Regions from separate parts of the Homo sapiens genome. Here regions 2 and 3 are each reported to be linked to region 1. Evidence: microRNA targets listed by miRTarBase, many of them from high-throughput screens and not tested one by one. Region 1 holds a microRNA gene; each other region holds the end of a gene's coding sequence.
Evidence for each region. The annotated mature microRNA hsa-miR-548ag reads AAAGGUAAUUGUGGUUUCUGC and lies in region 1 at 2,228-2,248, opposite strand. An mRNA with a match to its seed (bases 2 to 7 or 8) in the 3' UTR can be bound and repressed. Matches are read on the target gene's strand: a 7mer-m8 pairs with bases 2 to 8, a 7mer-A1 pairs with bases 2 to 7 and ends in A, and an 8mer does both.

Region 2: miRTarBase lists PSMG2 as a target of hsa-miR-548ag. Seed matches in the 3' UTR shown: 7mer-A1 at 933-939.
Region 3: miRTarBase lists BICD2 as a target of hsa-miR-548ag. Seed matches in the 3' UTR shown: 7mer-m8 at 1,136-1,142 and 8mer at 1,022-1,029.

Annotation. Positions count from the first base shown.
Region 1 is chr4:60,919,693-60,924,870 of GRCh38, reverse strand. It overlaps MIR548AG1 (microRNA 548ag-1), which reads right to left and starts at 2,252; the gene lies at 2,187-2,252.
Region 2 is chr18:12,724,616-12,729,615 of GRCh38, forward strand. PSMG2 (proteasome assembly chaperone 2) reads left to right here. Exons shown (of 7, transcript NM_020232.5): 6 at 1-4; 7 at 824-1,125. The coding sequence ends at 916. Among named protein-coding and RNA genes, the nearest start is that of LINC01882, 22 kb to the right of the region's middle.
Region 3 is chr9:92,710,622-92,715,621 of GRCh38, forward strand. It overlaps BICD2 (BICD cargo adaptor 2), which reads right to left. Exons shown (of 7, transcript NM_001003800.2): 7 at 742-4,842. The coding sequence ends at 4,533. Among named protein-coding and RNA genes, the nearest start is that of IPPK, 43 kb to the left of the region's middle.

The DNA.
Region 1 (5,178 bases):
ACTAAATGTTTTACAAAGAAAAAGAACCCCATTATTATTATTATCATTCAACATTTGGACAAATGAGTACACAGAGAAATAAAGTTCCTTGCTTAAACTCACACAGCTTGAGAGTGGCAAAACTAGCTCTTGAACCCTGGGAGTCAAGCTCCAGAAACCCTGCTTTTAAACAATGTCATAAGCTGCTGCTGTGGAGCTCTCTTCCTTCTTCTTTTTTTTTTTTCCCAGTAGATCGTAAATTTATTATTTTCTTTTCAGAAAGCAGAATAGAAAACCAGGACTGTAGTAGTACAATTCGAATGTCACCAGATTATTTCTCCAAATATTTGACCCAACTCTCATATAGAGATATGCTTTACAAAGATAGCCTTTACTAGGAAGTCCAATTTTTCTTAAATTTTCACATTACTTTGATAACCATTTAGACTGTGCTAAATATAGATATTCTCACAATTGTGTGATAATTTGAAGTTTGTGAATTTCAGTGCTTGTTATTGTAAAAACAAACAAAACATCCACTTCTTTTCTGAATTGCCACCCTGAACACTTTTTGTCAGTGCTTTTCCCCCCATATTCTTCATCAAATTATTGTAATTTTTTTAAAAAAACTATGTCTTAACTATTCCACCAGTCTGTGAAAACATTTCAGGAAACATAGCACCCAGAATGTAAAGTTATAATATAAATTTGATGAGTGAGTAGATCAATAATTCCTAGTCAAACAATAAATTTTTATATCTATAAAATATTTGCCTCTATATGTCAGAGAAATTTTTAAAAGTGTATACAATGAAATGCATGATAGTTTTTTGAAATATATACTGTAATACTTCCAGAAGTAAAGTATATGTATGTTATTTTATACTGTAATTTTATAGGTAATTATATAATATGGTATAATTATATATTATATATAGTATATACAATATATAAGTATATGTAACTATATATGTATATATTTATATGTAATAGACACACAAACATATATTTTAAATTTAACAAATACTTTTAGTCCAGACACTGTTCCAAGCACTTTACAAAATGTTAACTCATTTGATTTCTAAAATAATCCAATGAAGTAAGAGCCATTATTTTTCTCATTTTAAAATTGAAGGAACAGATACACAGACATCTATATAGCAATTTGTTCAGTCACACATTGGGTAAGCAGGGGAATTTGAACCCAGGCAGTCTAATATTAGAATCACTACTAGTAACTATTACAGAATAATGCATATGAAATTGTTCTTAGTATGGCATCCACAAGCACTAGGCAAGTATATTAGACTGAACCATCCTTTTTACCCATAAAAATGTAATTTCATGTTTCAACCAATATAGTTAAGGGTGGAATTCGACCAAGAAAAGGATAAATAACTTTATTTTCTGTGAATAAGTCACAATAAGGTTGAGAAGAAAATAGACAAGTTATAGGATAGTACATCCTCCTAATGTCACAGTGACAGCTTTGTCTTCAAGAAGCAATGTAAAGAGTGTTTCTTTAGTGTCTTAACTTTCTAATCAATTTAACAATCACAGGATGTGTACTGAGAAGCAGCAGGACTGACCATAATTGATATGTAAATACAGCTGCGGAGATTCAATTGCTAAAGAGTGAAACCCTGCCCTATGATGTTTTACAGTTAAAGACAAATGTGTGATCCACCAGTCTGGGGGTGACTGATCAACTGAAAAGAAATCCCTGAACAAGTAGATATTGCTTTGGTAAGGTACTCTTAATTCAGCAAGAGTTAATACAACAGCACCAAAAGCATTCTGTTTTGGACTTTTTAGGCTGACAACACATTATTTTACTTTGCTTGAATTTTGACACGAGATATATATTTTTATCTAGATGCCAGGCACTGAATCTTTTTTTTTTTCTTTTCAGGTAGATAAATAACTTTTCTCAGAAATGTATTCTAAAGGAGAGAGAAAGCTGGTGTCTGTACTTCTGGAATCAACGTCTGGCTTTTTTAGTTCTTAAAAAATAGTGTGACCTTAATCAAAACATTTCTTTCTATGAGTTAGTGTACTCAATTACATTTATTTACTTGAGTTTTTCATTACAATCTAACTGATCATGTGATTAAGTGATAAGGATATGTCTATGGCTATGATTTGGCTCTATACTAAAGGAGGATGAATAAGGGACTAAGAAAATCTAAGAAGAATATGTATTAGGTTGGTGCAAAAGTAAATGTAATATTTGCCATTACCTTTAAAAGCAGAAACCACAATTACCTTTGCACCAACCTAATAATATCTGCCTCTATATTTCAGAGAAATTCTCAGAAGTATATGAAATAAAACACATAAAATTATTTTTGGAAATATACATTGTAAATATCACAGTATTATAAAACCTAATGTGAGTGCAGTAATAAAAATAAAGTATGCTTATTGAGTATCTACTTTGAGGAAGTCTTTAAGTCTCATCTTGGCTATAAAATGACAATCACTGCAAACTTCTCTTTTATTTTGAAGCACCCAGCATTCTCCTTTTGACCCAATACTATAAGCTAAAGTTTCCAGCAGTGGTACTGTTATGGAACAACAGGGATCGCTGAGATTTAGAATTACTAACATGCATAAATAATTATCAATTTGGTAAGAACAAAGTGATAAGATGAATTTTGCGTAAGAGATTTAAAGTATACTTTGTTAGGGAGTGTGATGAGAAAGATGAACTAGGCAAAATATTTAAAAGTATATCCTTATATACAATATACAATATATACAATATACCAGTCCATAGCCTCTTAGGAACTGAGCCACACAGCGGGAGGTGAGTGTCAGGTAAGCAAGCAAAACTTCATTTATATTTATGGCCACTCCCCATCACTTGCATTAGCACCTGAGCTGTAGCTTTCATCAGAGCAGCAGTGACATCAGATTCTCATAGGCGCATGAATTCTATTGTGAACTGTGCATGCCAGGGATCTAGGCTGCATGCTCTTTATGCCTGATGATCTATCACTGTCTCCAGTCACCCCCACATGGGACCGTCTAGTTGCAGGAAAACAAGCGCAGGGCTCCCACTGATTCTACATTATGGTGAGTTGTATAATTATTTCATTATATATTACAATGTAATAATAATAGAAATAAAGTGCACAATAAATGTAATGCACTTGAGTCATCCGAAAACCATCTCCCACAACCCCCATGGTCCGTGGAAAAATTGTCTTCCATAGAACTGTTCCCTGGTGTCAAAAAGGTTGGGGGACCATTGCTATATAGAAGAAATGCCTAATTATGTACCCTATTACTCTAGACATAGATTAATATATATCCATATATTATTCTATATGTTGACTTATTTATAACCGAGATATGTAAGACACTTTATCACATAAGCTCAAATATATCTATTCAATATAATTTTTCTTAATAAACAAATCTGAGGAAAAACAAAGAAAAAATTAAAGACTCTCAAAGGCAAGCAAGGAATTCAGCTTGTAAGTAGCATGGAGAAAAATAGTATCTGCCAAAGGCTTATAAAACAGTAAAGAAGATTGACTCAGAAAATGAGTCCAGTGTTTAAGCAGCATGAAATGAAAAACAATATACAGTGTACTGTTATAATGTTTTAAAGCATTATGGATTTTATATTGGTGTTCATAGCAACATCTAATCTGCCTTAGAAACTTATTTTGACAGTGTTTTGTACTCAGGATGCATATCAAAGCTTTGCTACCACACTTTGATCAGAATCAGACTCAGGAATAGATATTATCTAACTTCTAACTTAGCATCCTCAATTATCATATTTTATCAGATCTGAACTGTGATGAAGATTTTGGATGATGTGTAATAGGAGCTAAACAATCATGAATTTCACTCACCAAATTCAAAATGTAAACATGGTTGTGTGAAATACAGTCATTGCCATGTATTTGATTGAAATATCTCATTTGACTTTCTGATAATTTGGGATACAATAAAAGTGAATTAGTGGTGACATCTAATATTTTTCTAAGGGAAATATAGCTCTATATGTCTTTCTAAAGAATAAAAATTGTATACTTATTCATTTATGTTTTGAGATGTTTCTTTTTTTGTACACCAGTCAATAGCCAAGTACTGCCTACCATTTGTCAGTTTCATTTTAAGGGAAAGGTAGGTAAGAAATCCTTAAAATTTTCATTCTGAATATCTTTTCCTATACTTTAAAAAATAAGGACCAGCTTATTGTATAGCTTCACTCAACAAAATAGAAGCCAACAGAGCATTACTCTACATTCTCTGAAAACGTAATTTAATTCAGCTTTAGTTTTATGCATTTATCTATGACAAGCAACTAATTAATTATAATATGTGATTCAAATTAAAAGTTATTATCAAAGTTTTGTGGCATAATTCTATAGTAAAGGAAATTGATGTAATTTAGTCCAAATTTATTGCTTCTTGTTTATTCTAAAGATAATTCTGGTATGGGCTTTCTAAATTAAGAAATATCTAGGAAGAAGAAAGTTTTGTCTTTTAAAACATACATCCTTAGTGGTATTCATATCTCCTAAATAGCTTCATAGATAGTAGAAGTTTTATATATAGAACACCTCGTGTTCACACTTGTTAGTAGTCAGAATAAAAAATATTTTAAATAGTGACACCTTATAAAATTAAATATAGTTCTTTCCATATATATGACCTCAAAACCAAACCTATTTGCAAAGTTTCTATGTCATAGTTTCCTTGGTTAGAAGTGAAGGAACAAATTTTGTAAGTAAAATGTAAAGCAATACTGACAATAAATATATATGGTGATTCGCTACTCAGTAAGAAATACCTCAAATTCAAAAAAGTACACTAATGATCACTGTACATTCAGAAACTCAGCCATTAATCCTCTGGCAAATTTTAAGTCTGTGATTCAGAATAATTTCCTTGCAAATATCCAGAGAAACCAACAGTATCTCACAAAGCTTAGTGAACCTCAATTCTGTTAAATGAAGTTTTATTATCTGTTTGCCTTTTTAATGGAGGCAAGACAAGGCATTCAAAAATACACAATATATGAGATCTAAACAATTAGATCCCATTAGAGTATACTTTAGAGTCAGTTTTTAGAGTTTTTGTTTTATTCTTGATTGCTCACACATTTACTTAAAACTCTTAGACTAGTTACGACTATCTTCTTATTCATATGGACCTTACAGGTCAAACAAACATATA
Region 2 (5,000 bases), not on the chromosome of region 1:
ACTTGTAAGTTCTATTATAGCTTAAGCCTCTTCTTTGTCTGGTTGTATTCATTAACTCGCACTTTATATACTACCTAAGTAGACCAAGTAAGTGAACGTTTGTATTAAATATAGACATATCTTTACATAAAATTTAGTTTAAGCTGAACTTTTGAAAATTAGAGGACAGTTAACCAACCTATTATTTACAGTTTTTTCATTAAAGCTGACTTTCCAAAAAGGAAAATCCTTAGTTCTTCATTGTACTTACTATTCATGTTAGATTAATTATGCCAGACATAGTCTTGCAATAATAAACAAGCCTTCTGTGGAATTCAGGAATTTTTTTAGGGAAGTAAAAAGTATTGCTATGTGAGCAATACTGTAGCTATTGAATATGTATTACAGTTGATATTTTTCTCTATTATGAAATGAGAGCATTACACCCAGGGAAGTGAGTTAGCCTTTAGGCATAACAGAACACTGAGCATAAGGCTGCTTTCTAAGATGGGTAACTAGCTTTTTAATTCATGCTTTTGCCAAGAACAAATTGATACAAATCACATAATGCTGATTTTTTTTTTAATCCCTATTCTTTTTGAATGTGATTTTCCCTAATAAACTTCATCTACAGCCTTTCTGGCATATCTTTATAATTTGGAACTTAAAGAAATTTATCTTCAGTTGACATGAAGACAAAGAAACTTTATTTTTCCTTAACAATAAAACCTGGCTATAAAAGTGCCAACCAAAAGGAACACAAAAGGAGAGTTTTATAATTCACTTTAAAAGGAGATTTGATGGTAAAGTTTAAAGATTAAAATATTTTGTTCTTCAATTACAGAGCGATGACCCCACAGTATCTGCCTCACGGTGGAAAATACCAAGTTCTTGGAGATTACTCTTTGGCAGTGGTCTTCCCCCTGCACTTTTCTGATCTAATTTCTGTTTTATACCTTATACCCAAAACACTTACTACCAACACAGCTGTTAAACATTCTATACAAAAAAATTGTATGATCTGGTATTAGGAAATTACTTTCACAGTAAATATCAAAGAAAAAAGATTAAGGGTCTCTTTGCCATGCTTTTCATCATATGCACCAAATGTAAATTTTGTACAATAAAATTTTATTTCCTAAGTAATTTTGTCTTAAATGTATTTTTTTTAATTTCAGACTCTCTATTAGCTTCCTAGTTTGTCTCTAATAAATCACCACAAACTTAGTGACTTAAAACACACCAGTTTAATTTTTTCATTAACTAATTAATTAATTTTCATTCTGTATTTTAAGTAAAATGAGACGAGGTCTTGCCATGTTGCCCAGGCTGGTCTCAAACTCCTGGGCTCAGGCAATCCTCCTGCCATGTCCTCCCAAAGTGCTGAGATTACAGGCATTACACCACTATGCCCAGCCACAAATTTGCTTTTAAATTCTGACTTCTGAGTTCTAGGAGTCAGAAATCCAACAGTGGGTCTGACGAGACTAAAATCAGGGTGATCGCAGGGCACTGCTCCTGAGGAAGGCCTTAGGGAGAATTTGTGTTCTGCTGTTTCCAGCTTCTAGAGGCTGCCATATTATTTGGCTCATGGGCCCTTCTATCTTCAAAGCCAGCAGCTTAGCATCTTCAAATCTCTCAGTTATAAAAGGACCCTGTGATTGCATTGGGCCCACCCCAATAATCCAGGATAGTTTCCCCATTTTAGAATAATTTTACTATAAAAGAAATAATAAAAATAGTTATCATTTTCGAGTGCCTGCTGCATACTAGTCACTGTTCACCCCTAGTCTTTGGGATGTACGATTTCACTGTGTTACCTCTGTGCCTTGGCTCTCTCATCTGTAACACAAGGGCTTGTAATATTTAAGGATACAACTACTTCCCAGCACTCCGGAAAGGTTTCCTTTTGATATGTAAATCATGCTGGATTCTGTGGCCTATTTCTGTTTCCCTTTTGGTTAAAATATGAAATGGGGGTTGACATCAGCAAGATGGCAAAATAGGAAGTACCAGTCCTCATTACCCCACAGAGACACCAGTTTAATTTATAGACCAGGATACCAGAAACCAGTTAAGTTGCAGTATCCCCAGGTGAGTGCAAAATTAAGAACAGCCACGTTGAAATGAGTAAGAAGAGTCATTTCACTTTACTCCACCCAGGATGACAGCCCAGCATGATGGCGAGTACGCCAGCTCCTGGCTTTTCCCTGGGTTGAAGGGGGCAGACTCGGTGAGGGGGAGAGAGGTAGAGAACGTTGGAGCATGTGACCAAGATTCTGACTCTTTCGTCTTGTCTGACTTGGAATACTGACAGAACTGGCATCCTTTGGATGTCTGGAGTCTGCTAAAAGCACGGGAGAGTTGGAGGATCGTTTGCCGTGCCACCAGAGCCTGTAGTACCACAGACAGGCCAGTGTGGCTGGACACCACCAAGAGAAATCACCCAACTTGCATTTTCTCTCCCAGGAGGAATGGAACTTACACGCCAGCATTGCAGCTTTTTGTAGTGCTGCCCAAGGGACTGTTGCCCATCTCATCTAACTTGGGGTGCTTATAGGAAGCTGTCATGCTTTGCCAGAGAGCCACTGAGAACAAAGGGGCGACTTGCAGCTGCAGCACTAGGGAACGTGCAATTCTGAAGACAGACACCAGAGGGAGCAAGAGATTACAAGATGAAAAACCAGCAACCTTCAGTTGGGAAATAACACAATCCTAAAAAGTTGAACTTGGAAAAACATTTAAGAGGTTTCAGAATCTCTACCTGGGCTAGCTGGTGAAGGTCTGCCCTGTACAAAGCCAGTATGCAAAGATTGGGAGTGGCCGAGTGTAGTGCCTTACACCTATAACCCCAGCACTTTGGGAGGCTGAGGTGGGAGGATCACCTGAGGTCAGGAGTTCGCGACCAGCCTGACCAATATGGTGAAACCCCATCTCTACTAAAAATACAAAAAAACAAATTAGCCAGACATGGTGGCACACACTTGTAATCCCAGCTATGCGGGAGGCTGAGGCAGGAGAATTGCTCAAACCCAGAAGGCGGCGGTTGCAGTGAGCCAAGATCATGCCACTGCACTCCAACCTGGGCAACAGAGCGAGACTCTGTCCCAAAAAGAAAAAGAAAATATGAGGCTCACTGGCAAACTAAATATAGACAAATGCAGAATCCTTCAGGACTATAATGGTAGTGCACTTTTAATTCTGGTCCAGAATTGACAAGACAAAGCATAAAAATAACTGTAACTGGCCAGGCACGGTGACCCACACATGTCATCCCAGCACTTGGGGAAGATTTCTTGAAGCCAGGAGTTTAAGACCAGCCTGGGCAAAAAAGTGAAGCCCCATCTCTAAAAATCAAAACAAACACTGTAACTATAAAAATATGTTAAAATATCTTAATGGGTACGCACTATGTAAAGGTGTAATTTGTGACATCAATAATTTTTTTTTTAGCTTTTGCACAGCAAAACAAACAGCAGAGTAAGCAGACAACCCACAGAGTGGGAGAAATTTGCAAACTATGCATCCGACAAAGGAATAATATCCAGAATCTATAAGGAACTCAAATGAGCAAGAAAAAAATAATCCCATTACAAAGTGGCAAAGAACATAAATAGACAATTCTCAAAAGAAGATATACAAGCAGCCAACGAACATGAAAAAATGCTCAACATCGCTAATCATCAGGGAGATGTTAAGACCGCAATGAGATATCACCTTACTCCTGCAAGAACGATCATAATTAAAAAGTCAAAAAAACAATAGATGTTGGTGTGAATGTGGTGAAAAGGGAACACTTCTACACTGCTGGTGGGAATGTAAATTAGTACAACCACTATGGGAAACAGTGCGGAGATTCCTTAAAGAACAAAAAGTAGAACACCATCTGATCCAGCAATCCCACTACAGGGTATATACCCAAAGGAAAATAAGTCATTATATGAAAAAGACACATGCACACACGTTTATAGCAGCACAATTCACAATTGCAAAGATATAGAACCAACCTAAGTGACCATCAACCAATGAGTGGATAAAGAAAATGTGGTATATTCATCGTGGAGTACTACTCTTCAGCCATAAAAAGGAATGAAATAATGTCTTTTGCAGCAACTTGGATGGAGCCAGAGGCCATTATTCTAAGTAAAGTAACTCAGAAATGGAAAACCAAATATTGTACCTCTCACAAGTGGGAGCTAAGCTATGAGGGCTCAAAGGCATAAGAATGATATAATGGACTTTAGCAGGCCAGGCACAGTGGCTCACACCTGTAACCCCAGCACTTTGGGATGTCAAGGTGGGTGGATCACTTGAGGCCAGGAGTTCGAGACCAGCCTGGCCAACATGGTGAAACCCTGTCTCTACAAAAAAAAAAAAATACAAAAATTAGCTGGATGTGGCGGCATGTGCTTGTAGTCCCACCTACTAGGGAGGGTGAGGCACAAGAATCACCCAGGAGGTGGAGGTTGCAGTGAGCCAAGATTGCACCACTGCACTCCAGCCTAGGCAACAAAACAAGACTCCATCTCAGGGTAAAAAAAAAAAAAAAGAATGATATAATGGACTTTGAGGACTTAGCCAGGGAGGTTTGGAGGGGGTGAGGAATAAAACACTACATGTTGATTATAACATAGACTGCTTGGGTGATGGGTACACTAAAATCTCAGAAATCACCACTGAAGAACTTATCCAGGTAACCAAAAACCACCTGTACCCCAAAAACCATTGAAATAAAAATTTTAAAAATAATTTTTTTAAGATGAGAGATCTTGCTATGTTGTCCAGGCTGGTTTTGAACTCCTGAGCTCAAGCCATCCTCCCACCTTGGCCTCCAAAAGTGCTGGGGTTACAGGCATGAGCCACTGCACCTGGCCCTACATCAATAATTTAAAAGTAGAGTTGTAAAAGTGGTTTTTGTATATGATTGAGTAAGTTGTTATCAGCTTAAAATAGATTATTACAAGTATAAGATGTCTCATGTAAGTCCCAGGATAACCACAAAGTAAATACCTATATTCTTT
Region 3 (5,000 bases), not on the chromosome of region 1:
ACTGAGGCTGTCGGACTAGGAGGTGGCAGGAGTGTGTCCTGGTATTTACTGTCCCCTTGACTAGACACTGTCCCCTTTTCTCACACCCACAAGCAACCATATGAACGTGCCCACTGTATATTTGTACATATTCCTACAGACAAATGTGATTCCTGGGTTCAGAGAGTGAGAGTTTAGACAGCAAAGGATTCTACATCATCTGAATCCCTGCCTCCTCATCAGGATAGCATAGGCTACTCCTAGTTTTAGTCTATGTATACACAATGTGTTCTTACCAACATGCTGCTGTGGCTTCAAACCTGATGCTGCACTTCAGAAGACCCTTGAGGACAGAGTTATGAGGCGTCAGGGCCCTGGGGGGCAGGCATCTTTCCAGGGGGGGGCATTGTCTGTGCCCTCCACTCCACTCATGTGCGTGGCCCAGTGTGGCCTGGCTCACTTCTGCCTGGTGGTGTATTTGATTGGCACAAGCACCCAGACACCAACTCTACCCTTTCCCTACCCTCATCTTCTGGGTCCTTGAACACATTCTTGTTTCAGGGATGGAGTGACAGCCTCCCCACATATACATGACCCCTCCCCATTCTCCTGAAGGTGGACCCCAGGCTGCTTCCAGTTCCCACTACCAGGGTTACCTGATAGGCTTGTTGCTGTTGTTGTTTGAGGCAGTGGATTTATTGTGCCTTGCTTAAACCACAGTTATCTGGAGCACGGAGTCAGAACAACCACAGAGAACAAACATGTGCTTTGTCTTTTTATTATTCTTTATTGGTCCTACCAATGTGACTCTTTACCCAGGCCCACTGTTCCTATGCGCACTGGCTTTGTAGGCATTCACATCATATGTCTGTGTCCTGAAAATCTCAATTAATTTCTCCTTCCTATTCCTTTTCCATGCTCTGCCTCATTTTCTCAGAAATTGAAGGCATTTGATTATTATTTTTTTGTTTGGGTCTGTGTAAAGGTTCCTTGGCAGGAGAACATGCATATGACTTTAAAATAAAGACCAACATTCTGACACTAAGGTAATGCACAGAAAAAATACAGTACTCAGACATCATTGCAAATAAATACCCCATACAGATGAAGTTATCTCAAATGTAACAATATTTCTTATGAATCAACACTGTAACGGAAGGTAAAAATAGGAGTCCCTACAACTAGGAATAAGAAATGCTTATTCCAGGAAACAGAATTCTTTTATTTTTGTCATTTATATTATTATAATTTTTCCTTTTTTGGAGAAGGAAGGACAGTTTTTCTTCCTCCAAGAGTACCAATTTGACCACTCCCACTAACCTCACTCAGCAAACAAAACAGGATGTAGACCTGGTTTGCTAAGGAGTTTTAATGAGTTCTGTTTCCTGAAATTAACAGTGATTAGTTACACCAAGCAAGAGAAGATATAATGTCTCGCTTTCACATTTGCAAAGAATACTATGGCTAACCCTCATCCCCTACTGCGCATGCCAACACAGCGTCGGCCCTCCTGATACCCTCAGCTCTTCACAAACGTGGCGTTCATACAGCTTGCTCAGCTTGTCCCAGAAGGTCCATTTGGTTCCCAAAGCACACTCAAGGTTTTGTGTTTGCTTTCATTTTCTAAGCCCCTGAATTTGCAAGTAAAGAATCACTGACTAACAGAATTTTGCACAATGACTGTTTTCTTTCCCTCAATGAAGATGCCCAGGTCTGGGTGTGAGGAGCACCTGCCTCACCTGCTGTCCACGCTGGCCTTCAGCATGCCCACTAGCTCTTCCCTGCTCGCTTTTGAGAATGATCTGTGCTGGGACACCTCCCTTAACTGATGAAGGCACTACTGGCAATGATTACTAACAAAAAGGTGTTGAAAGAGAACACCCTAAAAATCGACGACTGTAGAATTTTCTAAGTGTACCACAATTTGGCACAACAACCAGAGTAACAAAACAATTCCAATTTGGAATTTTATTGGTACAGTTGTATAAAATTCTGTTAATCAGTCATGCTTCACAACGTCCTAAAACCCAGAAAATTCTGGAATTTGTAGGTAATACTACTCATTCAATAATTTATCTTTTTTTTTCAAGTGCCTATTACTGTTTTAACCAGAGCAAAGGTCAAGTTTTCTTCTTGTTACATTGAACTATTCCTAAGAATAATAATAATACAATATGAAAAACCCCAGAATCTGAATACCCTGGATTTCTTAATGAACATGGCATTTAAAATCTGTAATTTCAAACATGAACCACAATGCCGTATGATCTAAAGGCTGCTGAACCACAGCGTGGATACACTTAGCTGAGCTCCTCGCTGGGTCAAAGCACTCATCTCCGAGTCTAAAGCTACACGCTATGGAGCACACAGCTCTGCCTCGTGCTGACACCAGACAAACACGGTGGGAGCTGAGGCGGACAGCTACAGGACCACGAGCATAGACCACGGCACCTGAGACCGTCTCTACGCGAGGAATTAAGGAAGCAAATATAATATCAAAATATCAAAAGTGCACAGGTTGATCGGATAAAAAAAGAACATGTGTAACAAGGAGCCCCCGTGGTGGGCGTTTCCAGTGGGCTCCTGGCGAGCCTGGCAGCCAGGGAAGAAGGGTCTTCGGCCCATACAGAGGCCTTTCCACGCAGCAGCTCGCAGCATGCTCAACATTAAAGCTTTTTTTCCTCCCATTAAAAACCTGGGGAATGCTATTTTGAAAAGAATTGCAGTGGCATATCCAAAAAGTTTCTAAGTGGGCTTTTAGGTTGCCCTTCCTTCCTCCTTGTGGGCCACGAGAGGGAAGGGGAAGGGGCTGCAGTGTGACAGGGCCGGGTGGCCAAGTCCTCCTGGCAGCTACTCTACAGCTGAAAACGGGAGAAAAGAGAGCGTTAGAAAGCGGTCATCTGTCGCTTCCTGTTTATCTGACAATTGAAGCTCTCCACGTGCTGGGAGGGCGCGAGCACGTTAGTTGGCAGAAGAGAAGACCTGCATGTGTTAGCAGGGGTCCCAGTGGCTTGGGTGTCTGCAAAGTCCCTTAGGAGTATGGAGAGAAGCTATGTGCCAGGCTTGCAAGGAGAGGGCAAAGCGCATGCAGGGTGGGCATGCCAGCAGCCATCCCACTGCGAGTCTTGCTGGGGCAGGGGGATCTGGGCCCAGGATGAACACGCAGGGGACATACATGGGCGTGTCCTGGAGTCTGGAGGGGACCGAAACATACTCGGCACCAAAGGGAAGAACGCGCAGGGCAGAGAGCTGTGGGAGGGGGCAACACGGTCTCTCACCAGGTAACTCGAATGCCTCTTCCGCATGAGAGACAAGGCAAGCAGCCTGCAGGAGAGAAGACTGCAGCCTCAGGTCCAGCTGGTCCCACAGGGTGATCGGGAAAAAAGTACTGAGAAAAGTTCTGCTCAGAATGTGGGAAGGCAGGTGTGGATGGAGCCTCTGGAAATGGGAGAACCCTACAGCTACCTTTCCTCTTTCTCTGTTGCCATCCCCCAGATTGCACTAAATAAAGAGACCTAAACATCTCCTACCTGTGAATCCTGACAAGTGGCCCTGGCCCTATGCAAAGCTTTCCCAGCACCGGGCTGGGCTCTGGATACACCTGTGGGTGTCCAACCCAGCCAAGCCCTTGGTGGCTCAGACTTCAGGCTAGGGTTTTCAAAGCCCCATGTCTTTGGGACTGAACCCCCTATGGAAGGCCGGATAATTGGCTGCTGGGGTCACCCCAAGTACAAAAGGACGGGCTCTGCACTAAGGACCAAGGTCTGGCCAGGCACTTGGAAAGCTTTTCTCATGAAAAATGAAAACCTGGGGCCTTGGGCCCTGCCAATCTGTCACCTCACAGGCCACTATACAAGCATCCTGATCTCAGAAATGAGAAACCGAGCTCTGGATTCCTGGGTTATGGTCAGCTGTGTCTGTGCCATGTGTGTCTGGCCAGCAGAATACAGGGGCTCAGGGCTGCTCTTCTCTGGGCTTGGGGAAGAAATTCTGCACTTCTTTCCTGAATATGATTTGCAGTCAGATACTGCATAAACTACAACGTACTCCTTTCCATGAAACTATGCCAAGTGCAAAGCCATCCTCTGAGGTCGTACCTATGCTGCAGGCTGGAACCTCCTAAAACTGCTTTCTAGTGCTGACATTAGACACATGCGAGGAACATGCAAGTCTCAACTCAGGTTCTGCCCCTTTTGGGTGCTGAGGGAGCAGGACCAGGACTCCTCCCTTGGGTTTCCCCACGGGTGCGCAGGGCTTAGAAGATGCTTTCATCACACATCTGCTGCAAGAATGTGCAGCTCTATCCCCACCTCTGACCCCCACCTAAGAGAGCAGCTGAGGACTGGGTGCTCCTGAGGGGGCTTTGAGGAGTGAGAAGCGACACAAAGCTCTCACAAGTGTCCTGCTGATGCAACGCCCCATGGCGCCTCGGCTAGACTCCTACCCTCTGTGCATTAGTCACGTTAAGATTGACCTAGCACCGCCGTCCCGCTGCTGCTGGGTTAGTTGAGGTGAAGCAGATGTTAGCTGCAGCGTGCGGCGCCCCACAGCCCCTAATCACAGTAAATGCTGTGCTTCTCGCTGCAGAACACCTGGTTGGCCAGCCCGGTGCCCTCGGCCCTGTCGCTGGCACAGGCACAGGTGTGACTTACGCTCGGTGTGGCTGGCTTGGTCTTCGGGGCGGCTTTGGCACGGCCACGCCGGGTCTGCTCATGGTCCAGCTCGAGCAGCTCCAGCCGCTGGGTCAGCGCCAGCTTCTGCTGGATGGCCATGCGCAGCAGCGAGTTCAGCGTCTTCTTCTCGTCCTCAGCAGCCGCCAGCTGCCGCTGCATCTCATCCAGCTGTGTAATGTACTCGTCACACCTGTGGGTACCAAAAACATGACTGAGGGGCGGGCAGAGCCGAGCAGAGGAGGGCAGGGCAGGGCAGGGCTAAGCTGCACGGCCCTCTGACAGCCCTATACCAGAGCCATCCTTCAATGTGGCCTCTGGACTGGAGGGTGTGGCTGGGGAAGAATTATT